Linked DNA regions of Homo sapiens. The protein of the gene in region 6 purifies or fractionates together with the protein of the main gene of each other region. This does not show direct contact. Each region holds a gene or a part of one and is shown on either strand. Other genes may lie near its edges. The genes, in order: DNAAF5, ADPGK, CYB5D2, METRN, SGSM2, PTPRN and TBC1D15.

Region 1 (3,500 bases), on a different chromosome or scaffold from region 6:
AGCGAGACCCTGTCTCAAAAAACAAACATTTAGAGCCACACAGAGATGCAAACAACACACTTGCCACACGTGCTGACGTGTATGATCAGAGAGACACGCCTGCGAAGCCGTCCCCCTATGATCAGAGAGACACACGCCTGCGAAGCCATCGCCATATGATGAGAGACACGCCTGCGAAGCCGTCCCCCTATGATCAGAGAGACACACGCCTGCGAAGCCATCGCCATATGATGAGAGAGACACGCCTGCGAAGCCGTCCCCATATGATCAGAGAGACACACGCCTGCGAAGCCATCGCCATATGATGAGAGAGAGACGCCTGCGAAGCCGTCGCCATATGATCAGAGAGACACGCCTGCGAAGCCATCCCCATATGATGAGAGAGACACGCCTGCGAAGCCATCGCCATATGATGAGAGAGACACGCCTGCGAAGCCGTCGCCATATGATCAGAGAGACACGCCTGCGAAGCCGTCCCCATATGAGAGAGACACGCCTGCGAAGCCGTCCCCATATGATCAGAGAGACAAGCCTGCGAAGCCATCGCCATATGATGACAGAGATACGCCTGTGAAGCCGTCCCCATATGATGAGAGACACGTCTGTGAAGCCGTCCCCATATGATCAGAGAGACATGCCTTCGAAGCCATCGCCATATGAGAGACACGGCTGCGAAGCCATCGGCATGGTGGGGGTGACAGCTGCGTCCTTCGCCCGGCTTCCTCTGCTCCTCTGCACTGCAGCCCCCAAGGCACCCCGGCACCCCTGGATCTGTCCCGTGACTGAGCTGCACTTTCTAGAGCCTGACACAAGTGGAAGCCTCTCGTTCACTCTCCTCCCTTCTCCGCTTCTTTCACTCTGCATCGTTTTCTGAGGCCCGCCTGTGCCCGCTCCTTTCTGAACCTGGGAAGTGGCCTGTTCTGGGGAGATGCCAGTTTAGTGCCCGCTCCTCTGTGGAGAAGCATTCAAATGGTGTCCAGGGCAAGTCTGTGTGGCCTGGGCTTTCACTGTGCCGGGACAAATACCAGCTGTGGAAGGGCTGGGCCACAGGGAAGGTGCACGTTTAACTGTTTTAGAAACTGTCCAACCATTTTCCAAAGTGTTTGAGCCAGTCCGCGCTCCTTCCCACTCTCAGCGGCACGCGGTACGCTCAGTCTTGAATTGAAAGCAGTCCGAGAGGCACAGTGGCATTTCCGTGTGCTTTTCCTTTGCATTCCCCGATGACTAACGACGCCGAGCGTCTTCTTCACAGGCTTGTTTGCCGCCTATCTTCCCTGGTAAAGGGTCTTTCCAAATTGTTTTCTGCCCATTTAAAAAAATGGATTGTTTTCCTGCTGAGTTTCAAGAGCTCTTCCTATACTCTGGAGATAAATCCTTACATACATCATCTCCAAACATCTCAGTCTTTGGTTTGTCTTTTCGTTTTTTCAACAGGCCTTTGAAAAAGCAGAAGTGTTCATTTTGATGAAGTCCACACATTGCTTTACCCTGTTACAGAGCGGTCTTTTGAGGACGCACCCAGGGAAGCGTGGCCCGGCCCACGGTCACGAAGCCTTCGTCCTAGCTCTGCGGTCTTTTGAGGATGCACCCAGGGAAGCGTGGCCTGGCCCGCGGTCACGAAGGCTTCGTCGTCACTCTGCAGTCTTTTGAGGATGCACCCAGGGAAGCGTGGCCCGGCCCGCGGTGACAAAGGCTTCGTCATCACTCTGTGGTCTTTTGAGGACGTATCCCGCGAAGTGTGGCCCGGCCCGTGGTCACGAAGGCTTCGTCGTCACTCTGCAGTCTTTTGAGGATGCACCCAGGGAAGCGTGGCCCGGCCCGCGGTGACAAAGGCTTCGTCATCACTCTGCGGTCTTTTGAGGACGTATCCCACGAAGTGTGGCCCGGCCCACTGTCACAAAGGCTTCGCCCTAGCTCTGCGGTTCTGGGCTTTACCTTCAGATCCCTGACGCATCTGGGGTTAATTTTTTGACTCCAAGTTCACTTTCTGGTGTATGAGTGATCCTATCATTTACAGTATCCTTATTAAAAGATGCCATTAAATGGTCTTTGAGCCTTCATCAAGTCAGTGGTCCGCGTGCGGGCGCCTGTTTCTGGACGCTCTCGTTCTGCTCATCGGTCTGAAAGCCAACACCACGTGGCCCCATGACTGTGGTTTTGTGAGTCTTGCACCCAGGACCTGCTGCCATTCAGCTTCACTCCTCCCCAGTGTTTCGGCAGCTGTGGGTCCTTTGCACGCCCACGAGAATTTCACAATCAGTTTGTCGATTTCTACAGAAAAGCCTTCAGGGACTTTGATGAAAAGATTCTGATCTTCAAAATTCAGGCCGGGCACGGTGGCTCATGCCTGTAATCCCAGCACTTTGCGAGGCCAAGGCAGGCGGGTCACCTGAGGTCAGGAGTTCAAGACCACCCTGACTAACATGGTGAAACCCCGTCTCTACTAAAAATAGAAAAAATAAGCCGGTCGTGCTGGCGAGCGCCTGTAATCCCAGCTACTCAGAGGCTGAGGCAGCAGAATCACTTGAACCCAGGAGGTGGGGGTTGCAGTGAGCCAAGATTACACCACTGCACTCCAGCCTGGGCGACAGAGTGAGACTCCATCTCAAAAAAAAAAAAAAAAAAAAATTCAGAACAACTGTAAAGATAGAAATGAAACCATGATATGTCAGGATTTAAAGGGTCTTTTTCTATTTTTAGAGAAAGGGTCTCACTCTGTCACCCAGGCTGGAGTGCAGTGGTACGATCACAGCTCACTGCAGCACTGACCTTCTGGGCTTAAGTAACCCTCCTGCCTCGGCCTCTCAAAGTGCTAAGATTACAGGTGTGAGCCACTGCATCCAGGCTAAAGGGTATGTTTTAATAAGAACAGCTTGTACCAGGACACCCCATTTTTAACCTTTTTCTGGTTATTTTTCTGTTTTTATCCTGTATTATGGAATTAGTTCCAAATAATTAAAATTCTGCTGGCTGTTTAAATGATCCTGTCATCATTTTGTAAAAAACAAAAAAGCCAGGGTGCAAACACACCTCTCTTCGTTTTTTTTTGAAATGCAGTCTCGCTCTGTCATCCAGGCTGGAGTGCAATGGTGCGATCTCAGCTCACTGCAACCTTCACCTCCTGAGTTCAGGCAATTCTCCATTCTCATGTCTCAGCCTCCTGAGTAGCTGGTACTACAGGTGCATGCCACCACACCTGGCTAAGTTTTGTATTTTTAGTAGAGATGGGGTTTCACCATGTTGGCCAGCCTGGTCTTGAACTCTTGACCTCAGTATTACAGGCATGCGCCACCACGCCCAGCTGCACCTTTCTTCCTGATGACGATCCGCTCTGGAAAGTTTGCAAAATGAGAGATGCGTGACCAGGAACAGCCGGGGAGGGGTCTGCTGACAGCTGAACAGAGCTTTGTGGGCACCTGGGCTTCTGGGTGTTTCCAAAGAAATACTGGCCGGTGCTGGGCAGGGGTACGCAAGGCCTGGACACAGGCTGGGACTGGTTT
Region 2 (3,500 bases), on a different chromosome or scaffold from region 6:
GTACAGTATAAACCCTAATGCAACCACTAAGAAAAAAAGAATTATACCTAATAAAGTCAGAGAAGATAAAATGAAATCATAGAAAATAATCCAAAAGAGTACAGAAAAAGAGGGACAAAGATAGAGATGGGGCAAACAGCAAACAAATAGCAAGATGTTAGATTTAAACCTAACCTGATATATCAATAATCACATTAGATGTAAATGGTCTAAACACTCCGATTAAAAGGCAGAGATTGTCAAAGTGGATTAAAAAGCAAGCCCCAACTATACGCTGTCTATAAAAAATACACTTTAAGGTAAAAAGATGCAAATAGATTAAAAGCACAAGGACAGAAAAAGATATACCATGCCAATACTAATCAAATGAAAGCTGGAATGGCTATTTCAATCAAAATAGATTTCAGAGCAAAGAATATTATGAAATGATTTTATTTATCCCTAGTAATGATAAAGGAATTAATTCATTAAAGGGATGTAACAATCCTAAACATTTATGTACCTAATAAGAGTTTCAAAATACATAAAGCAAAAAGTTACAGAACTATAAAGGAAATAGACAAGTATCCAAAATTACAGTTGGAGACGTCAACATACCTCTTAATAACTGACAGATCAAATAGACAAAAAAAAAAAAACCAATAAGAATATAGAAGACTTGAACAACACTATCAATCAACTTCATCTAATTGACATTTACAGAACACTCGACCCAACAACAGAAAGGCTTATGTATATTCTTGAAGCTTTCAAGTACACACAGAACCTCACCAAGATAGAATATTCTGCACCATGAAAAAGGTCTCAAAAACTTAGTAGGATTCAGGTCATAGAAAGCATATTTTCTGACCATACTGGAATTGAAATAGAAATCAGTAACAGAAAGACATCTGGAAAATCCCCAAATATTTAGGAACTAAATAACATACCTCTAAGTAGTCCATGAATGGGCTATTAAATGGCACATCTCAATAAATCAAAGGGATATTAGTATTTTGAAATGAATGAAAATAAAAATAATCCATCAAAATCTTTGGGATGCAGCTAAAGCAGTACTTAAGGGGAAATTTATAGCACTAAACCCCTATATGAGAAAACAGGAAAGGTCTCAAATCAATGATTGTAGCTTCTCACCTTAAGAAACTAGAAAAAGAGCAAGTCAAATCTGAAGCAAGCAAAATCCAATGAAAATAGAAAAACAGAGAAAAATAAATTCACCAAAAGCTAATTACTTATTAAAAAGAGCAATAAAATTTATAAACCTCTAGCCAAGCTGATCAGGAAAAAAAAGAAGATACAAATGACCAATATCAGGAATGAGAAGGAAAACATCATTACAAATTGTAGAGATCTTAAAGGAATAATAGAATACCATAATTAACTTTATGCCAATAAATCCAACAACTTAGATGAAACAAATTCCTTGAAAGATACAAACTACTAAAGCTCATTTAAAAAAAAAAAAGGAAAATCTGGATTTCCCTATATCTATTAAAGAAATCAGTTATTTAAAATCTTCCTACAGAGAAAACCCTGGGCCTAGAAGGCTTCACTAGAAGGCTTAAATTCTATAAACATTTAAGGAAGATACAATACCAATGCGACACTCACTCTGTTTTAAAAATTGAAGAAAGGGCCAGGTGTATTGGATGAATCCAAGCACTATGGAAGGCTGAGGCAGGTGGATTACTTGCAATCAGAAGTTGGAGACCAGCCTGGCCAACACAGTGAAACTCCCTCTCTACTAAAAAATACAAAAATTAGCTGGGCATGGTGGCACACACCTGTAGTCCCAGCTACTCGGGAGGCTGAGGCATGAGAATCACTTGAACCTGAGAGACGGACATTGCAGTGAGCTGAGATCGCCACCACTGCACTCCAGTCTGGGCAGAGCGAGACTCCATCTTAAGAAAAAAAAAAAATTGAAGAGAAGATAGGTGTGGTGGCTCACACCTGTAATCCCAGCACTTTGGGAGGCTAAGGCAGGCGGATCGCTTGAGGTCGGGAGTTGAGACTAGCCTGGCAACATGGTGAAACCTCAAGTCTACAAAAAATACAAAATAATTAGCTGGCTGTGGTGACGTGTCTGCAATCCTAAATACTCAGGAACTCGGCTGAGGTGGGAGGATGGCTTGAGCCCAGGAGGCAGAGGTTGCAGTGAGCCGAGATCATGCCACTGCACTCCAGCCTGGATGACAAGGCCAGATCCTGTCTCTCAAAAAAAAAAAAAAAATTGAAGAGGGGGAAACACTTTCCAACTTATTCTACAAGGCCAGTATTGCCCTGACAGCAAAACCACAGACATTACAAGAAAAGAAAAATACAGACCAATATTATTCTTGGGCATTGATGTAAAAATTTTAAACACAATTTTAGTAAACTGAATATGTGAAAAGGATAATGAATACATCAGAACAAAGTAAGCTTTATCCTAGAGATGCAAGGTTGGTTTAATATGTGAAAGTCAATATAATTACCATATATCAAACTAAAAAACAAAAAACCACACAATAACCTCAGTAAATGCAGAATTTGACAAAAGCATTTGACAAAATAAAATAACTATTCCTAATTCTTGCCTAATTCCACAAGTATATATTTTTTTGAGATGGAGTCTTGCTCTGTCGCCCAGGCTGGAGTGCAGTGGCGCAATCTCGGCTCACTGCAACCTCCGCCTCCCGGGTTCGAGCGATTCTCCTGCCTCAGCCTCCTGAGTAGTTGGGACTACAAGCGCCTGCCACCATGCCCAGCTAATTCTTTGTATTTTTAGCTAAGACAGGGTTTCACCATGTTGGCCAGGCTGGTCTTGAACTCCTGACCTCAGGTAATCCGCCTGCCTCGGCCTCCCAAAGTGCTGGGATTACACAAGTATATTTTTTAAAGGCACGGTTCCTCTCCTGAAATTTGGCTTCTATTCTATCATTCCACTAAACCTGCCTTTACTATATTCACCAGCGTCTATTTCAAAGATGCAATATAGCATGGCTATTAGGAGAATGGATTCTGAAGCTTGACTACTTGGGTTCAATTCCCACTCTACTCATTATCAGGTATGTGATTTTCACCAGTTTTAACTTCTCCATGCCTCATTTTTCCTATCTGCAAAATGGGGATAATAAAAAGACTTCCCTTATAGGGCCCTATGAAGATTTAAATTGGTTCATACACATTTAAAGCACCTAAAACTTAAAACAGTGCCTGGTATATGGTAAAAAACTATAGAAGGAAGTGCCAGCTATAATTACCACCTCTGGAAAATACCTAGTTCTTAATCTCTGTAGTTCTCAGATGATCTCTCAGTCCATGTTGAGAAGCATTTCAGAAAGTTAAACTGAGTCTCTTTGAGAGTGCATACAGGGTGAAGTAAAGGCAGAGCCTGACACTTGAATCCTGACTCTATCATTTACTAGCCAGGTGCCCCTGGGCACCTTACTTAGCCTCTCTAGACCTCTGTCTTTGAAATCATAAGACTGTTGTGAGGATTGAGTAACAGAATGCTT
Region 3 (3,500 bases), on a different chromosome or scaffold from region 6:
AGCTCCCAAACGTATTACATCACAGTTTGATGCATGGTCCTATGTGGAGTTGTTCAATCTGTTTACTTGTCTATGATGGCTCTCTCTACTAGTGAGGCGCAGTACTCAGAACAGCTTAGCGCCAGGCGCAGCGGCTCACACCTGTAATCCCAGCACTTTGGGAGGCTGAGGCGGGCAGATCACTTGAGGTCAGGGGTTCGAGACCAGCCAGGCCAACATGGTGAAACCCTGTCTCTACTAAAAATACAAAAATTTGCTGGGCGTGGTGGTGCATGCCTGTAATCCCAGCTACCCAGGAGGCTGAGGCAGGAGAACTGCTTGAACCTAGAAGTTGGAGGTTGCAGTGAGCTGCAGTCGTGCCACTGCACTCCAGCCTGGGTGACAAAGCAAGACTCCATCTGAAAAAATATATAAATAAATAAAACAGCTTAGCATAGAGCATTCATTTTAAATACTTATTAGATGAATAAAGAAAGGAATCAGGGCCCGAGTCACAGGCCTGCAGTCTATGAGTTGGCCTGGCACAGAATTTCCCACTACGGGGGTTGGGGTGTCTGTGTTATATGGTGACAAGCCTGTCTTTGGTGAGTTTCTGACATGAGACCCAAAGAGAGGACAGTAGTAGCAGAGGCAACAGAGGAAGAGTTCTAGAATCTGTGTCATGAGAATGGTGATCACCAGTGGCTGCATCTCCAAGCCAATCCTGTATCCACAGCATAACCAAGGCCATCTTGTTTTCCCTTGAGGCCTGGCCATGTTGGCTGCCAAGATGGCTTCCTGGCTGTCCTCACTTCAGTATGTACCCTTACAATAAACCTTCATCCACTGATGTATCCTGAGGGTTTCTGGTAACCTGAAAGAGCCTAACATGGCCCCTATCCTACAGAATGAGCTAACAGGGGCAGGAACTGGACTCAATTCATCCCTGGTCCCCCTGAGGATGGAACCCGTAACTTATGAGTAGTAGGTATTCAATAAGATCCTGACATCAACTAAAATCCTTCTGAGGCATTTCCCGCCACATGCCCCACCCCATCCTCAACACATTATACATCATTCAAACAAGACCAGCTCACTTGTCACACCAAACGCATCCGAACACTTCCAGTGTGCTCCCAAATCTTAGTATGAAGTATTTGGCCTGGCATTCTTTGCCCATTTACAGGACTCTGTTCTTTTTTTTTTTTTTTTGAGACAGGGTCTCACTCCGTTGCCCAGGCTGGAATGCAGTGATGTGATCTCGGCTTATCGCAACCTCTGCCTTCCAGGTTCAAGTGATTCTCATGCTTCAGCCTCCTGAGTAGCTGGGATTACAGGTGTGTCCCACCACACCCAGCTAATTTTTTGTATTTATAGTAGAGACATGGTTTTGCCATGTTGGTCAGGCTGGTCTTGAACTCCTGACCTCAACTGATCCGACCACCTCAGCCTCCCAAAGTGCTGGGATTACAGGCATGAGCCACCGGTCTGGACTCCATTCTTATTCTTTTTCTTTTTTTTCTTTTTTTTTGAGACAGAGTCTCACTCAGCCACCCAGGCTGGAGTGTAGTGGTGCGATCTTGGCTCACTGCAACCTCCGTCTTCCAGGTTTAAGCAATTCTCCCGTCTCAGCCTCCTGAGTAGCTGGGATTACAGGCACCTGCCATCATGCCCGGCTAATTTTTGTATTTTAATAGAGACAGGGTTTCACCATGTTGGCCAGGCTGGTCTTGAACTCCTGACCTCAGGTGGTGATCCGCCCACCTCGGCCTCCCAAAGTGTTAGGATTACAGGTGTGAGAGACCACTCCTGGCTCTTATTCTTTTCTATTGGGTTTTCTTTTCTTTATTAACCCAGTAATGTTTCAACCTTGGTTTGGCAACTTCATTGGGAAAGGGAAGAACCCAGCCCTCTGAAGCGCAGGTGAGTAGAGGTCAGTGCCTTCGATGGTAGACAGGGTTATGGTCTCAAGACTGATCTTGGGCATACGAGAGAAAATGAAGAAAGGCGTGCTGCAGAGGCCCACAATGGATGGACACAAACTTTAGATATTATGAAAAAGCCATGATTGATTGGATGTGGAGGGAGCTGAGGTGTTAATAAAAATGCCAAGGTTCTCAGAAAAGGTAACTCAAGCAGTGATGACAGAAGCAGAAATTCAGAGGCATTAAGGAAAGAATTCTTCCAAGTTAGACCTGTTTCGATGGTGAAGTGATACTGGTGTTCCTCAGGAAGTCAGTCATGTCCAAGTAGGACTCCAGTGAGACGTGGGGGCTGCAGATAGATAGAAGAAAGGGCTACGGCCATCCCAGTTGTCAGTACTTGTGAAGCAATCTAGTGTTTAGTGTCTTTCGTTGAGGCTGGAGTGCAGTAGCGCAATCTCAGGTCACTGCAACCTCCATCTCCCGGGCTGAAGCGATTCTCCTGCCTCAGCCTCCTGAGTAGCTGGGAGTACAGGTGCGTGCCACCACGCCCAGGTAATTTTTGTATTTTTTAGTAGAGACAGGGTTTCACCATGTTGGCCAGGCTGGTCTTGAACTCCTGACCTCAAGTGATCCAACCGCCTCAGCCTCCCAAAGTGCTGGTATTACAGTCGTGAGCCACTGCGCCGGGCCTAGTGTTTAGAGTCTTTAACACTGCTTTAGGACACAGTTTGGTGTTGTCTCATTTGAGAAGCAAGTCCCTTATGTAGCATCAGTAAGTAGCAAGTGCAGTAACCTACACAGTGGTTTGATTAGCATAACTACCACCTGGGAGACAGCTCACTCACGAAGTTTGTCTCCTCCTAGAGGACCAAATAAAAGGGGATTTGTCGAAACACAAATTCAGGCTTCAAGCCCTTCTGGCTGTGTGCTGAAGCCAGATGCATCGAACACAGTGAGACAGGGAAGCTGCCCTTCTGGAGCTGGTTGTTCAAGGATGGTGCAAGCAACCACTGGCTATGGCGAAACTGAGGCCAAAGCAAGCAGCTTAGTAATCCTCTCCCAAGACTAAGAGTGGGGGAAGCAGGTGCCCATCCATCTCCTTCTGGGCGGCTCATCCCTATTCTAACGACCAGAATTTAAAGTAAAACAAATCCATGGCTGTTTTTCAGATTTTAAGCTTGAACCCAATCCCTAAAAAATCTCAGCCCCCTAAAAACACTGCAGACAACCAAATGAAATGTATGACCTATGGACGACTTACCAACACACACATAATTCTTCTCATAGAATGAAAGCCAATTGTGAAGTGTCAGCATCTCAGCGGCTGACAGGTCGGATACGTCATCCACGAGGCCTGCTTCAGAACAGTCCCCGGTCACGAAAGCTCTGGATGCGTCTCGGCCTGGAACAGAGATGTTTCCATCAGACCCAGGTGTAAACCACTGACACCATCCCCACTCAAGAATCTGTTTTCTTTCTTTTTCTTTTTTTTTTGAGACGGAGTCGCACTCTGTTGCCCAGGCTGGAGTGCAGTGGCATGATTTCAGCTCACTGCAACCTCTGCCTTCCGCTTTCAAGCCATTCTCCTGCTTCAGC
Region 4 (4,236 bases), on a different chromosome or scaffold from region 6:
CTTCCCTCACAGGCCTGGCTCAGAGCCGGAGCGCTGTGCGCCCGCCTGCCCCCACCGTACCCGAGGGACCCTATGCCCCTCTGCCCCTTTCCTCTCCTGCTGAGCCCCAGAAGCACCTGGCACGGGAGGCAAGTGGGAGCCAGCCAGGGAAGCAGGCAAGGGTGCGGGCAAGGACGGGGCTGGTGGGTGCAGCAGAGCAGAAGCTTGCATGAGTGCAGGTCCCCACGTGCCCCCCACCCAGCAGCGGCCCCTCCCCGGAATGTGGGTGTAGCTCCTCCTGACATCTGCTCTCCCTCTCAGTTGCCAAATGGTCTTGAACAAGATACCATTCCCCTGAGCCTCAGTCTCCCGCCAGGAGGCAGGAATTGGAGCCATCCTCACAGCTGCGAGGCAGGCCCAAGGCTGGGCTGGACACAGGAGACCAGGTCCACAGCAGCTTGCGTGAACAGAGTTCTTATTGATAGTCCCATCACCTCCAAAGCAGTGGGCCCACCCTCCCTCCTACCAGCCCCTCCCCAGCACCCAGCCCCTCAGTGCAGCGCCACCTCGCAGGGGTGGAGGTGGGCAGCACGGGCAGCCTCGTAGGCACGGCGGAACTCCTGGAATCGTGGGGCACAGCCCAGCCGGGCCTCCCCAAAGCGGCTCCAGCCCATGAAGAGGAAGGTGCCTGGGCCCGGGTGGACGCCACAGCGCAGTGGGGTACGAATGGAGGTCAGCCCCTGGTCCCCGGATCGCCCCGCCTGGAACAGCGGCGGTGTCTGGCGGAGGACACGGGCGGCCACCACAGTGATGACAGACTCCTGCAGCTCCACGTCATGGGTGACCCCATGGATGATCCCGTGAATTACTGTGGGGAGGCATGTGGCTGCGGTAGGCATTCAGGGGAAGGCAGGCTCCAGGCTCCCCCCATGGCGGGGACACTCACCGAAGTCGCTGGTGCATGCGGCCAGGAGCAGCTCAGCGTCGCTGCAGGGCCTGCAGGCACCTGGCATGCAGAGGGGGTGGTGAGGAGAGGCCCTGCCCTCTCCCGGCATCACCCCAGGCCCCGTCCCTTGTCCGCACAAGCGGCAGGAGGCAGCAGGCAAATGAGCAGAGCCCACGCTCAGGGCCTGATGGCACCTGGGGGTCCCAGAGAGCTACACAGCAGATGTGCACGCCCTCGGCGACACCTGTACTCAGGAAACACACTTGCAGGCGCGTACCTCCAAGGCAGGAATGCACACAGACGTGGGCCTGGGGGCCATGCCTAGCGATCAGCTGTCCTGGGCCGCCCTCCTGCACTCCCATCTGACATATGCACCCCAGCATCTGGGACCCCTCTAGTTTCCCGGATCTGAGGTCTGAAGAGCAGCAGCCCAGCTAGGGTGATAGGAAGTGGGGGCAGAGGAAGGGTGGTCTGGGGTCCCTGGCCCAGGGCCAGGGGGCAGAATAGCGAGAGCCCATCCCTTTCAGGGTCAGGCGCCAAGCTCCAGGAGAGCCAAGCAAGAGCTGGGCCTGGTGCCCTGCAGGGAGGCGAGCGGCGTCTCCATGGTGACCGGGCTGCACACTGGACTTTTGTTGGTTGGGCTGGGGGAGGGGAGAGAGGTCACCGCTGGGCCAGGGAGCCCCGGACAGCTTTGGCCGGAGGCTTCGATTCTGTCCCCACCATCTCTTCCCCCAACCGTTCAGGGACCAGAGGCCCAGGATTGCTGGGCCCGGCCTCCCCTTCCCTCCACTCTGCCCCTGCCAGCTCTTTCCAGAGATGAATCGGGAAGGGAGGGCGGGGAGGCCATCCCTCCCCAGCAGTCCCAGGCTGTGTGGCCTGACAAGCCCATCCAACCCTTGTAGCTCACTTTTTCCTTCTGCAGTGGGGCCGACAAGGCACATTCCCGCCAAGCCCAGGCAGGGTAAGACTTCGGGACTCCCACCCTGTCCCAACCAGACCGCCACTCACCGTCTACGCCGAGACCGTGGGCCTGCGGGGGCAGCTCGGGGCGCCCGTCCTCGCGCAGCTCAAAGCGGAAGGCGGCCACGCGGCGGCTGATGTCCTGGTGCGGCGTGGCCTGCAGGAAGAGGGCCCGGCGCTCGCGGGGACCCCAGCGCACGCAGCGGCCCCCTGCCGGGCCCGGGCCCTCGGCCAGCAGCAGCTCCAGGGCGCCCCCTGCGCGCTCCGCGAAGACCTGGGCGCCCGCGAAGGGCCGCACCGGCCGCAGACAGGCGATGCCGGGCCGCGCTCTGGGATCGGGGCCGCCCAGGGTCAGGCGCAGCGCCCCAGCCGGGTACAGCCACTCAACCGCGCCCTCCGCACAGGCCAGGGCCAGCTGCCCCACGCTGCCGGGCTCCTGGGTGAGGCCGCTGGGGACAGGACGGGACGGGGCGCTGAGACGGGGGCGGGTCCCCGCCCGGCGCAGCCCCCGCTCCCTCCCGAGGCCGCCTCGCGGATGGGGAAACCGGCCCAGCGCTCTGCGCGCTCCGAGGGGCGCCTGGGGGGTCCTAGCCGCAGCGCACCCCGTCCTAAGTGCGGGGACAGCCCCCCGGACCGTACCTGCCCCTCCAGCTGCAGCGCTCCTCGGAGTAGCCGGCGCGGGCAGCCGGGGCCAGGAGGCCGCAGCACAGCGCGCAGAGCAGCGCCGCGGCCGGGAACCCCATGGCACGGCGGGCGGCGTCCGGGGAGTCGGGGCTCTCACCACCGCTGCCCCGGCGGGGCGCGGGTCCGGGCGGCGGCGGGAGCAGCCGGGGGCGCCGGCCGCCCGGCCCCGGCGAAGCCCCCAAGCCCGCGGCCGCTCCGCCTGCCGCGCAGCCCCAGCGCCGGGGCCGCCTTGGAGCGGGTCGGGAAGGGGGCGGGGCCTGCGGCGTGTCGGCCAGTCGCGGCGCGGCCCGGAACTTTCCGCCAATAGCAGGCGCGGGGCGGAGCGGGGGCGGGGCCGGAGCTCGGGCGCCGCCGGAGGACTATCCCACGGTCCAAGCGCCTCGAGGGTTGGGGGGGGCCTTGGCGCGGAAGGGAGGCTCCTTGCCCGCCCCGCGCTGTGCGTCTCTCCTTCGCCGCGCCCTCACCCTGGCCTCGCCCCCCGCGCTGTCCCGATCGGAGTCCTGGAGCCTCTGATGGAGCCGAGGTTTTGATGTCCACTGGAACCTCGGGGTGGCGGTAGGGAAGGTGGCCCACCTGGTGGTTCCGCCTCGCGGGCGGCCGGGCCTGCTCCTTCCTAACACTGGGACCTGGGCCTGTTGGCCACATCCCTCCCAACCAGGTCCGGTCCTGCTGACCAGAGGCCGGTGGAGCCCCAGAGGAGAGGGGTCATGACTCCAGAGGCGGGGAAGGCCTGGCCTGGGGGCTGCGCCTTGGAGCGGGGCCAGGCCTCGGGTTTTGGTAAGGCCGTCTGCAGGAGGGGGTCCTGCTGAAGAGCGCGCAGCCCGCAGGCTTAGGCCCCTTTCCTCAGACCTAGCGGCACCCCATAGTTGCCGGATGACCGACCCCGGGCCAGACGGGGCTCCTGGAGGGGCGTGAATGGAGCAGCCACGGGCACCCCTGCAGGCCTGCAGCACGTGGAGACACAGGAGCTGGGAGGACACCCCTGGGCCACAGGAGCAGCCCCCACCAAGATGAAACAAGCAGAAACAGGCGATTCGCAAACACACTGTAGCCTCAGGCTGGAGCAGTGTGGGATTCCCAGCATCCGGGACTGCTGAGTTGGCCTGATGGGAGGAAGTGGGCAGTGGCTGGCCAGGTGGACAGGAAGAGAATGGGGGAGAGCAGACAGCCTGGGTCAAGGGCCTGAGGAAGGAGCTCTTGGCAGCCCAGTGAAACCCCAGGGCATGGGTGGTGGGTGGGGACGACAGGTCAGATCACAGAAGGCCTAAGGCACAAGCAAAGGGGTCCCACTACATACTGAACCCCTTACGGACGACAGAAGCTTTAGCCGGGGACTGCAAGGACCAGCATAGACTGTGCAGCCTGAAGATGTGAACATTCCGTCCCCTGCCCCCAAACCTCCTGCCACCCGGCGCTCGAAACTCATGGTGGACAGATGAGTTCACCAGTGGCAGTCGGACAGATGAGGCCAGATGGCTCAGTGGCAGTGGGAGGCTGGATCCCACTGACCAGGCCCTCCCTCAACCCCAGGGCCCTCCCAGGCCAAACAGGAACAAGGCGCCTACTGGGCTCGGCCAGCCCCTTGCTCTGGGCGAGGTGCAGGTCAGAAGTAGCCATCACAATCCCCAAAAGGTGGAAGACTCCCAAAGGCCTGTCTGCAGCTGAGT
Region 5 (3,500 bases), on a different chromosome or scaffold from region 6:
GTTTTAAGATAAAAAGGATAAAAGGATATATCAAAGACCTCTCCCCAACAGTGGTAGTTTTTGGATTTTGTTTAAAAAAAAAAAAAAAAAATGAGGCCGGGTGTGATGGTTCACACCTGTAATCCCAGCACTTTGGGAGGCCAAGGTGGGCAGATCACCTGAGGTCAGGAGTTCGAGACCAGCCTGGCCAACATGGTGAAACCCCTGTCTCTACTAAAAATACAAAAATTAGCTAGGTGTGGTGGCAGGCACCTGTAATCCCAGCTACTCAGGAGGCTGAGGCAGGAGAATTGCTTGAACCTGAGAGGCGGAGGTTGCAGTGAGCTGAGATAGCACCACAGAACTCCAGCCTGGGCAGCAGAGTGAGACTCCGTCTCTAAATAAATAAATAAATAAACAAACAAACGAGACAGGGTCTCTCTCTCTCTCTGTTGCCCAAGCTGGAGGGCAGTGGTGCAATCATAGCTCACTGCAGCCTCAACCTCCCGGGCTCAAGTGATCCTCCTACCTCAGCCTCTGGAGTAGCTGGGACTACAGGCGTGCACCACCATGCCCAGCGAGTTATTTATTTTTTTGTAGAGACTGCATCCTGTAATATTGCCCAGGCTGGTCTCAAGCTTCTGGTCTCAAGGGATCCTCCCGCCTCAGCCTCCCAGAGCACTGGGATTGCAGGTGTGAGTCACCATGCCTGGCCCCATAGTGGTAGTTTTGAGTCCATTCTCCTAGCGCCACCCTCCACTGGCACGGAGGTGGCAGTTACATAGGTTCTGATCCTCGGGCCTGGGAACAGCACACAGAGAACCCCACCCACCCCCCTGCTGCCGCCAGACTGGTTTGCCAGCGAAAACTTCCACACAAGGAAAGTTTCTACTCGCAGGGGCCTACTGCATGTCCAGCTTCTGGACAGACAGGTTTAGGAACAACCACAGCAAACACTCAACAAAGCAATTTTCTAGCCAGTCCTAGGAGTCTTGCCCCTCCCGTTGGGTAACAGGAATGGGGATCTGGCTGCAAACTTTCCTGGGTTTGCCCATGGTCAGGTCTTGACACAGTGATTCTTCAGGAAGGCTCTCCAGGAAGGCTCTGTGTTTTCTGTTTAAATGTCTGCATTCTAAGAAGCTCAGAGAAGCTTGTATTGCCTAGGCCTGGCTCTCCTCAGTCACCCCCAACCCTCCTCTGCCAAGAACCATGGGTCGGTGTGGAGTTGAGGGGCCCAGTACACAAGGGTCCCTTGAAACTAGGGACCGTGGTGTCGCTAGGCTGGTAATCCAGTCTCCACAGACTTCACTCTGCTCTTGACCTCTCAGCACGTTCTCTATACTCCCATTTCTCCCACAACAAAGCTGAATTCGGACGTGGCTAGGACAGTAGCAAGGCACAGTTTAAGTCTGGATCAACTTCAGACTAAAAATGCATTTCAGAGCATTTTTCCAGGGACTGAGGGAGACTGGCACATCAGAATCTCCAAAAAGGCAGAGAGGGGTGGTGTTTTTGATCCATACCTTGCTAGTCTTCCCTCCCCGTCCCCCGCAAGAGTCTCTCGTGATTCCACCATGCAATGCAAGGAAGCTGCTTTGCAGGCAGAGGAAAAAGGTTGATAATCAATGCTTTCAACGAGCCTCAGTTTCAGCCCAAATTGGGATTTAGCTCACCACTGAGCACCAATTTTGACAAAGCATAAGGATTTCTCTGTCTGTAGGCCCTGAGATACCCTGGCCTGACTTAGCCCGATACTGTTGGAACCTCTCCTGCTCCTGTTCTCCGTGACTGTACCGAACCCAAAACAGAGGCTGCACACTGGCAGAGGCTGGCAGATGTCTTTTGTGTGGCCCACACAATTTTTTTTTAAATGGGAATTAGCTGTCAGTATTTAAAAAGTAGGAATTTTTTTTTTTTTTTTTTTTTGAGACAGAGTCTCGCTCTGTCACCCAGGCTGGAGTGCAGTGGCGCGATCTTGGCTCACTGCAAGCTCCGCCTCCCGGGTTCACGCCATTCTCCTGCCTCAGCCTCCTGAGTAGCTGGGACTACAGGCGCCCGCCACCACGCCTGGCTAATTTTTTGTATTTTTAGTAGAGACGGGGTTTCACCGTGTTAGCCAGGATGGTCTCGATCTCCTGACCTCGTGATCCGCCCACCTCCACCTCCCAAAGTGCTGGGATTACAGGCGCCCGCCACCACGCCCTGCTAATTTTTGTATTTTTAGTAGAGACGGGGTTTCACCAAGTTGGCCAGGCTGGTCTCGAACTCCTGACCTCAGGTGATCCACCTGCCTCACCTCCCAAAGTGCTGGGATTACAGGCGTGAGCCACTGTGCCCGGCCGAGAATTCTAATACTCTTCAAAGTTGCTTATCATAATACTGGCATGCCTTTTTTTTTTCCAGAGCATAGGTTCTGCTGAGAAAAACTGAGGTCAGGCTGTGTCTTGTAAACCTAGGAATCATTATTCCACCATCTCAAAGAACTGGGGAAACCTTCCCAAACGGACATGGTATGAACTCAAGTCCTACAAACCTACCTTCAGCCTCAACAGCCAAAGGAGGAGAGACGAATATTCTTTGAGTGCTTACAATGCTACGAACGAATGAACATTTACACACATCATCTCAATCCCCACGAAAGTTCCTTGAGGTGGGAATCATCAGTCTGTTTTTAGAGGAGCAAACTGAGGGTGAGAGAAGTTAAGAAACTTGTCCAAGACGACTTAAAAGGCAGGACGCCAGGATTCAAACCCCAGTCTGTCACTCAGACTCTGCTCAGAGGCTGCCTCTCCGACTGCCCTCCCACATGTTTTTTCTTCCTAGCTCTTATCACATGCCAAGTTATTGGATGACATATTTACTTGCGCATTTGTTTCCTGTCTGTCTCCCCAACAGAATGTAAGCTCCTGCGGCAGAGACTCTGTCCATCTTGTCACTGCCATTTCCTTGCACGGTGAACGGTGTCTGGCACCTGGTGAGCCCTTGGTGGGGATCTGCTGCTGGATGAGGGGAAGGGCAGCTGTATCTGCTGTGCCACACTACCGTCCAAAGCATCCCTTCCCTTATCTGTTCTTTCATTATTTTCCCTCCACAAACCCCAACACCAATCTCAGAGGCCAAGGAATACAACACAGAGAAGGTGAATGGTTCCCTGTCCCTTCAGATGGGGGGTTGAGAGGAAGCTGAAATTCCTAGAAATCCAAGAAGAGTCTGTGCGTAGGGATAGGCTTGCTCCTACAAAGCAAAAGTCTTCAGGCTGAGGAGGCGGAAATGGTTTATAAGCGACTCTCTCCTTTCTGGGGCTGGAAGGCTTGGCCACACTGAGAAGGAGGTGATGAGAGAGTCCCTTCTGAGGCTGGAAGCCTTAGCCACCTCTCCTAGCCCACGCTCAGGCTCCTTTGCATCCAGTCAAGGGCTTGGGGTTAGGATCATGGAGCAACACGGGTGGGAAACAAAGGGAAAGTGGCACAGAGCATCCGAAAAGCACAAACCCCTCCCTGAAGTCAAAATCAAAATCAGTC
Region 6 (3,279 bases):
TGGTCTCGAACTCCTGACCTCAGGTGATATGCCTGCCTCAGCCACCCAAAGTGCTGGGATTACAGGCGCGAGCCACCATGGCCGGCTAATTTTGTATTTTTAGTAAAGACGGGATTTCTCCATGTTGGCCAGGCTGGTCTCCAACTCCTGACATCAGGTGATCTGCCTGCCTCAGCCTCCCAAAGAGCTGGGATTACAGGCATGAGCCATTGCACCTTACAATCTTACAAGTTGTGTTACGTGTTACCACAAGCAAGTTCTGTGCCTCAGTCTTTCCATCTGTAAAATGGGACTCATCATGTAAAGCACCTTGGAGACTGCTGGCTGCATAGGAAGCCTCGTTCTAACGTAGTGTTCCCACCTAGAAGGGCCTTACTGGCAGCTGGCGCTCTCCTGCTGTGCTCTCTGCACCTCCTGAGAGACCAGCAGGGACCGGCTCCGGGCTGAGGCTGGGGCTGGAGTCCAGATGCACAGCGGACAGAAATGCGTAGGAGTCTGGGTTGCAGCTGCACAGACAACACACTAACTTTATTCACACTGGTACAAAAGTAGTTTTTTCTAGAAATGTTCTCTTGCGCCAGAAGGAGAGAGGTTGAGCAGCGCATGGTGGGAGGGTGGTGGGAGGAGGCTGGGCGTGAGGCCAGGGAGGGCAGAGCGCCCAAGTGTGAGTCAGAGGCAGGCCCGGGGCTGAGAAGCAGGGGGAGCCGGGTGTGGCGACCCTCCACCCCATTCTTCCATACTGGAGCATAGGGGGACACACACAGATGTTCAGGGAACTCCCAGAACCCCAGGAGAGCTACAGGAGAGCCAGGCCAGGGAATGTAGGCAGGAGAAGGCTCTGGGTAGAATTGCTACCCATGTCCTTTCCTCTCCTCCTGGCTGCAGCACCCCCATGGGATGCCCTGGGCTCTGGGATGCCCCAGGCTCTGGCATGCGAGGCTGGGCAGGCGTGCCCCTTCTGGCTTTCCCTTCCTGACTCTTCTAGGAAGGGCTGAGCATGCCCAAGAGGTGGCTGGTGGGGCAGTGAGGAGTGGGTACACAGAGATGCTCACACAGGCAAAGAGGGACAGAGGCTGGGCTGCCCGCCAAGGGGCCCCAGGGTCTCACTGGGGCAGGGCCTTGAGGATGGCATTCACTTCCTCCGCCACGGCTGTCAGGGCAAATTCAAACTGGTCCTGAGGAAGGGCAGTGGTAGGATGGTCATGGAGAGGGCTGACCTGTGCTCTGCCCTCAAGATGGGGGGCTTTTGGTGGGGGGAGGGCCCTGGGCAGGTCCCCTGGGAGGAAGGGAGCCCTCCTGGAGGAGGCGCAGAAGCAGGTGGGAAAGGTTGGCAGCTGCTGCTTTCCCTGGGGTGGCCAAGAAGTGGGTGCTAGGGAAGGGTGGGAGCTGGGGTTGGGGCAGGAAGGCATGGTCACCTTAGAGCGGACAAGGCCAGGCCGCTGGTCACGGACATGCTCCAGGGTGGCAGCGATGTCAATCTCCTTCACTCCTGGAGATGGAGGTGGGGATGGGGCTGCTCAGGGGGTGTCCAGAGGAGGACAGGACCCAGAAAACCTGAGGCCTCCTGGAGGCAAAGAGCCTTGGAGGGCTGGGCAGAGCCTGGAGGTTGACAACCTGCTCCTTCTGAGCTCCCAGGACCCTGTGTGCTGGGGAGCCTCTAAAAAGGGCCTGGGGGCTGCGGGCACCGTGGGGAAGCTCCCTACCTTTTGCCATGCGGTTCAGGACCATGTCGATGAGGATGTAGGTGCCGGTCCTCCCCGCACCATCACTGAAACAGGAGTTAGTGACAGGTTTAGCTTGAGATGCAGCAGAAAGGGGGAGGGACGGAGGAGGCGAGGAGGCCTGGAGGCCTGGGGGAGGGGAGGACACTGGGTGACCCGTTGGGGTTGGCTTGGAGAGGGACAGTGAGCCGAGGATGAAGGAAAGCTCATAGCACCTGCACGCTGGGACTTGGGCCTTGAGAGGGGAGTCTGTGACCTGTGGGTGTCATTTGGGCAATGGGACAACCAAAGAGGAGAGCCATGGCTCAGCCCAGAAGCAGAGGCAGCAGGAGGGAATTGGATGGGCCTCTCTAGCCTTCAGCCAGCTTTTTGTGTATAGGGGGCCAATGGTCAATATTTTCAACTTTGTGGGCCACATACAGTTTGTATCACATACTTTTCTTCTTTTTTCTTCACCCATTTAAAACTGTGAATGCCACGCTTAGGTCTTGGCCATTAAAAACAGGTGGTGTGCTGGATTTGGACTATGCCTGCAGTTTGCTAGCACCAAGGGGACAGGCAGGCAATGTGCACAGGAGACGCACACAGGGAGTGGGACCAGAGAGATGAATCTCCTCTCCACCCACCTGCAGTGCACGATGATGGGGCAGGAGCGGCCCCGGTAGCACTTGTTCACCTTCCTGCAACAAGAAATGGGTGTGAGGGCCAGTGGGCACCAGCAGAGAGGGAAAGGGAAGCTGAAACACATGACGTGGGCCTCTCTTTCTTCCTTTTCTCCCCACCTGCCCGGGGCAGAGAGGGAAGATGGTTGGAGAAAGGAGCCAGGGCTGGAGGCAAAGAACCAGAGCTGGTGTGGGTGGCATTGGGCTCGCCTTGTCACTTGCAAGCTAGGTGCCCAAGCTATGCACCTGGAACAACTGATTTAACCTCTTTGAGCCTCAGTTTTCTTACCTGTAAAATGGAGGATAGTAAGAAAAACCTCCTTAGGGTTCTTACAATGATCACATGAGATAACCCATGTAAAGAGCTAAGTGCTAGGTCTGGCACACAATAGGTGCTCAATACATGGTAGCAGGTGGCAACTATTAATGATAATACATCATCATATTAAGAGACACTTCTGCCCAAGTCCAAGGGGATAGCTTTCTGGTGACTTCAAGGGTGTCAGTCTTGCCACATCCCTGCTCTGGCCCTCTGCCATTCTTTATGACCACCCAGGCTGTTTTCCTCCCGACTCAGGCTCCAGTGGTCCTTACCAGTTGTGACATCAGGCTGCCCTGGGCATAGTGTTCCCTGGGCCAGGGGAGGACAACCCCAACCCCTCAACTCGGGACATTGTGCTACTGCTTGTCTCCCTGGAGCAGTCTCACTTCAGCACAGGCATTCTGTGGCTGCGTTATATTCAGACTTGGGGTCCCCTTGGACCTCAGACCTTTCTCCACTGCCCCTGACCACAACTCAGTGAGGAGCAGGGGGCTTCTCCGTCTCTCAATGGACCCATCTAACCTGCCCTTGTCCTTTATGACCTTTCTGCTTTGGGAGTCACCTGCATACTCCT
Region 7 (3,500 bases), on a different chromosome or scaffold from region 6:
ACTCCCACATGCTTAGCGTTCCAATAATGGAACACTAGGCATAAATACATTAACCCATTTTTAACCCCCAAATTAAGACACTAATTTAACAAAACTGATAAACATTTAAGTACGATTCCAGATAGAGACCATGTGGGTTTTACTTCTAATCTGAGAACAGAGGAAGTGAGCATAAAGTAATCCACTTTTAACTTGTAATCAGCACAATGCCTTGTCTAATGGTAGCACAGCCATCAATAGTATAGGAATCCATTTCCAGCTGTAAAAACCTCAGAGACCACTAGAGTTCCACTGTATAAAGTTGGATTTACAATCAAAATGGATTATCTCCCAATTCTTTCCTTGGAAGAATTTCTGTTATCCTAAGGTATGATCAATCATTATACCAGCATTCTATGAACAAGCACACTGGGCTGGACACAGTGGCATACACCTGTAGACCTGTAGTCCCAGCTACTTATAAAGCTGAGGCAAGAGGATTACTTGAGTCCAGGAGTTCGAGATCAGTCTAGGTAACATAGCAAGACCCCTTCTCTTTAAAAAAAAAAAAAAAAAAAGCACACTGATTTATTATTAGCAAATACTTTAGAAAATGTGAAATGATTTGGTTTTTCATTAAAGGTTGCCATGGAAAAATAAACACTGGGGATTACACATGGGGGGATGGTGTAAGGGAAACATGGGATGTAAAATTACCTATTGGGTACTATGCTCACTACCTGGGTGATGGAATCATTCACACACCAAACCTCAGCAACATGCAATTTACCTATGTAACAAACCTGCACATGTACTCCCTGAACCTAAAATAAAAGTTGAAAAAATAAAGAGTTGCCTTGGGTAAAAAATGGAACAAAAGGAGTACACCAAAAACATAAGAATATCCTCTATAACAGATGTGGCAAAGCCTCACATAAAGTCAAGTCTCACAAAGGAAGAACAAAGGCAGCAAATGGTCTAGAGCACTTGTTCTGGGATACCTCTTGGCCCCAAATCTCACAGAGATTGTGATTTGAAGAACGAAGCTCCAAAAGACCAAATATTCAGTGTGAAACTAATTTTTAAGAAGAGGCTACCAGTTCATCAGAATTTTGGAACATACTTGCCTTAGATATTTCAGTAAGGCTATCATAATTCATTTACACTCTACAGAATAAATTGTTTCTTTTCATAATAAATATCACATTTGCATAATAATTTAAGGACTTACCTCCCATAATCGAAGAATATCTAGAAAACTAAATTCCCTTTTGAATCTGATTAAAAGCCACCTGAAGCAAAAATAAAGGTATCCAGAGTCCTGAGATTCTATGCAGAAGAAAAAAACACACATATGACTTACTCTTATGCTAATTATGTCAGAATACAGTTACTTTTCTCTAACTTTCCTATGCATCTTAGGCAATTCAAGGCCCTATACATTTGTCTTCTACGTTAAGGAATCATTTCAAACTTGAAGGCTGACTTCTTTTTAAAAACTAACAAATAATACATTTTACGAATCAAGTTTAAGGCAGAATTATACAAAGAGAGTTTGGTTCCACATTTTTATGGAACCGAAGAAAGTGCAATAGAGTATATATGTCTTTAAGTTCTTTTTTATTGAGACAGTGTCTTGCTATGTCACCCAGGTCGGAGTGCAGTGGAGTGATCCCAGTTCACTGTAGCCTCAACCTCCTCGGCTCAAGTAATCCTCCCACCTCAGCCTCTTGAGTGGCTGGGACTACAGGCATGCATCACCACAGCCAGCATTTTTTTTTCCTTGTAGAGATGGGGTCTCACTGTGCTAGCCAGGCTAGTCTCAAACTCCTGGGTGCAAGTAATCCTCCCTCCTTGGCTTCCAAAGTGCTGGGATTATAGGCATGAGCCACTGCACCTGGCTTCTTTAAAGAGTTCTTTACATTTTTTTCTATGCATTACTCTACAATTTGCTGGGTATAGTTCTGATTCACTAAACTTACCTAAGTAACTGCAAAATCCACTGTCTAACAATCGAAGTAAGGTACTCAGCTGAATTAGCTGGGTCTTCATGCCTTGCATTTGTTCTTCAAAATTCTGATGCTTTAAAAGGAAATAATTGTTACAAGTAATATTTAATAAATATTTTATAGTACATAATGACTGATAACTAAAACATGATGTCTAAGGACAAATGCTGAACTTATACCACACTGGTAATCTTAAAAAATGCGTAACTAACCAAAAATCTAACGTAACACTAAAAGGGAGGGTAAAGAGAAAGAATCCTTGCTCTCAAAACTAAGGATTATTTTTTCCTCTATTCATTTGACTTAGATAAAGAAGAATGCAGACATAGCAACTGCAGACTGACTATTTATTTCTTACACAGCATAAAAGACTTGGTGAAAGAAACACACATTTGGGAAATAAATATTTATCAAATTCTTTCCATTGTTAAATATTCCTTCAAATTATACATAATAAAATTAATTTTAGTTTTAGTATGTATTTCATTTTAAAGAATTACTTTACATTGGAGAATCTGTAAAGCCAAAACCATTTTCAGGACAATACTAAAACATTATCTGGATTTCATACTTAAATTCTTTCACAAGTGCAAAGGCTGTATGATGTGTGATACTCCAAAAGACTGAACACAGAAGCAAATATGAAAATTCAGCTGTCTTCTATTAAACCAGACATTTTTAAAAATGAAAAATTTAAAACAATCTCTTGTGTCGGTAAATTTTTCATTAGGAAAGGTTACTTTTCATTAAAAAAAAGTGATCTATGTTAAGGTAGAATGTGTTGTTATTTAATGAATTAATAAATAAATGAATACAAGTTTCTCAGTATTAATTTTTCACATAAACATCAACAGATATAACCCACATAAACAAAAACTCTTTCAGGTCTTCAATAATATTGGAGAGTGTGAAGGGGCCCTGAGGTCACAAAGTTTGGGAACTGCTGGGGTTCATATGCTTTAAAGAAACTTCATAGTTGAGTAGACTCCCTACCAACACCTGAGTCAAGGGGCCAGAAGGCACCAAAACTGATGCTCTGAAAGGCTTCTTAAATGATTTGGATCCCTTTAACTCATATGTCCCGATCCCTCTGTGGTAACCTACCGCCCTAACCCTAGTGAAAGCCTTAGAAAAACATTTCCTCCTTCACACTTACTTTTTCACTTTTACAGTACAATAGTGCTTTATTAGAACTATCATATTAGAAACAATTCATTCTTAAAAAAAATTTAAGTCTATTAATTCTCAATAAGCTGTTTCTCTTTAATGAATTTTAAAAACCAGTTTATTAATAGACTAACTCAAGGCTTTAGGATATAGTTCCTCCACATTTACCAGAGAGATCTATAGAGAAGGGGCAGAATCAACTCTGATTAACAGGATCATTTTTGCTGTGACACAGTCAAAGACTAGAGCTGATCTGGGAATACCAACATGGCATAGACATTTGCTACCCACTCTGCTGTAAAAAAGAAACATGTCCATAATGACAGACACCATATTCGAAAAAGT

The links.
Region 1: the proteins of PTPRN (region 6) and DNAAF5 purify together in Homo sapiens (affinity purification with mass spectrometry, with the first as the bait; one large-scale study listed by BioGRID). This does not show direct contact.
Region 2: the proteins of PTPRN (region 6) and ADPGK purify together in Homo sapiens (affinity purification with mass spectrometry; 2 studies listed by BioGRID and IntAct, with this or other methods). This does not show direct contact.
Region 3: the proteins of PTPRN (region 6) and CYB5D2 purify together in Homo sapiens (affinity purification with mass spectrometry; 2 studies listed by BioGRID and IntAct, with this or other methods). This does not show direct contact.
Region 4: the proteins of PTPRN (region 6) and METRN purify together in Homo sapiens (affinity purification with mass spectrometry; one large-scale study listed by BioGRID and IntAct). This does not show direct contact.
Region 5: the proteins of PTPRN (region 6) and SGSM2 purify together in Homo sapiens (affinity purification with mass spectrometry; 2 studies listed by BioGRID and IntAct, with this or other methods). This does not show direct contact.
Region 7: the proteins of PTPRN (region 6) and TBC1D15 purify together in Homo sapiens (affinity purification with mass spectrometry, with the first as the bait; one large-scale study listed by BioGRID). This does not show direct contact.

What each region holds. Positions count from the first base shown.
Region 1 is NC_000007.14:750,699-754,198, reverse strand, and holds part of DNAAF5 (dynein axonemal assembly factor 5), read right to left. Parts: intron 1-3,500. UniProt on the Homo sapiens protein: Cytoplasmic protein involved in the delivery of the dynein machinery to the motile cilium.
Region 2 is NC_000015.10:72,766,759-72,770,258, forward strand, and holds part of ADPGK (ADP-dependent glucokinase isoform 4 precursor), read right to left. Parts: intron 1-3,500. UniProt on the Homo sapiens protein: Catalyzes the phosphorylation of D-glucose to D-glucose 6-phosphate using ADP as the phosphate donor. GDP and CDP can replace ADP, but with reduced efficiency.
Region 3 is NC_000017.11:4,149,697-4,153,196, reverse strand, and holds part of CYB5D2 (neuferricin isoform 1 precursor), read right to left. Parts: intron 3,307-3,500; coding exon 3,166-3,306; intron 1-3,165. UniProt on the Homo sapiens protein: Heme-binding protein which promotes neuronal but not astrocyte differentiation.
Region 4 is NC_000016.10:713,682-717,917, reverse strand, and holds the start of METRN (meteorin precursor), read right to left. Parts: upstream 2,801-4,236; 5' UTR 2,629-2,800; coding exon 2,525-2,628; intron 2,335-2,524; coding exon 1,934-2,334; intron 986-1,933; coding exon 926-985; intron 848-925; coding exon 531-847; 3' UTR 1-530. UniProt on the Homo sapiens protein: Involved in both glial cell differentiation and axonal network formation during neurogenesis. Promotes astrocyte differentiation and transforms cerebellar astrocytes into radial glia.
Region 5 is NC_000017.11:2,344,001-2,347,500, reverse strand, and holds part of SGSM2 (small G protein signaling modulator 2), read right to left. Parts: intron 2,979-3,500; coding exon of another isoform or gene 2,841-2,978; intron 1-2,840.
Region 6 is NC_000002.12:219,289,123-219,292,401, forward strand, and holds the end of PTPRN (receptor-type tyrosine-protein phosphatase-like N isoform 1 precursor), read right to left. Parts: intron 2,402-3,279; coding exon 2,348-2,401; intron 1,769-2,347; coding exon 1,704-1,768; intron 1,490-1,703; coding exon 1,416-1,489; intron 1,176-1,415; coding exon 1,104-1,175; 3' UTR 501-1,103; downstream 1-500. UniProt on the Homo sapiens protein: Plays a role in vesicle-mediated secretory processes. Required for normal accumulation of secretory vesicles in hippocampus, pituitary and pancreatic islets.
Region 7 is NC_000012.12:71,916,259-71,919,758, reverse strand, and holds part of TBC1D15 (TBC1 domain family member 15), read right to left. Parts: intron 2,062-3,500; coding exon 1,962-2,061; intron 1,309-1,961; coding exon 1,211-1,308; intron 1-1,210. UniProt on the Homo sapiens protein: Acts as a GTPase activating protein for RAB7A. Does not act on RAB4, RAB5 or RAB6.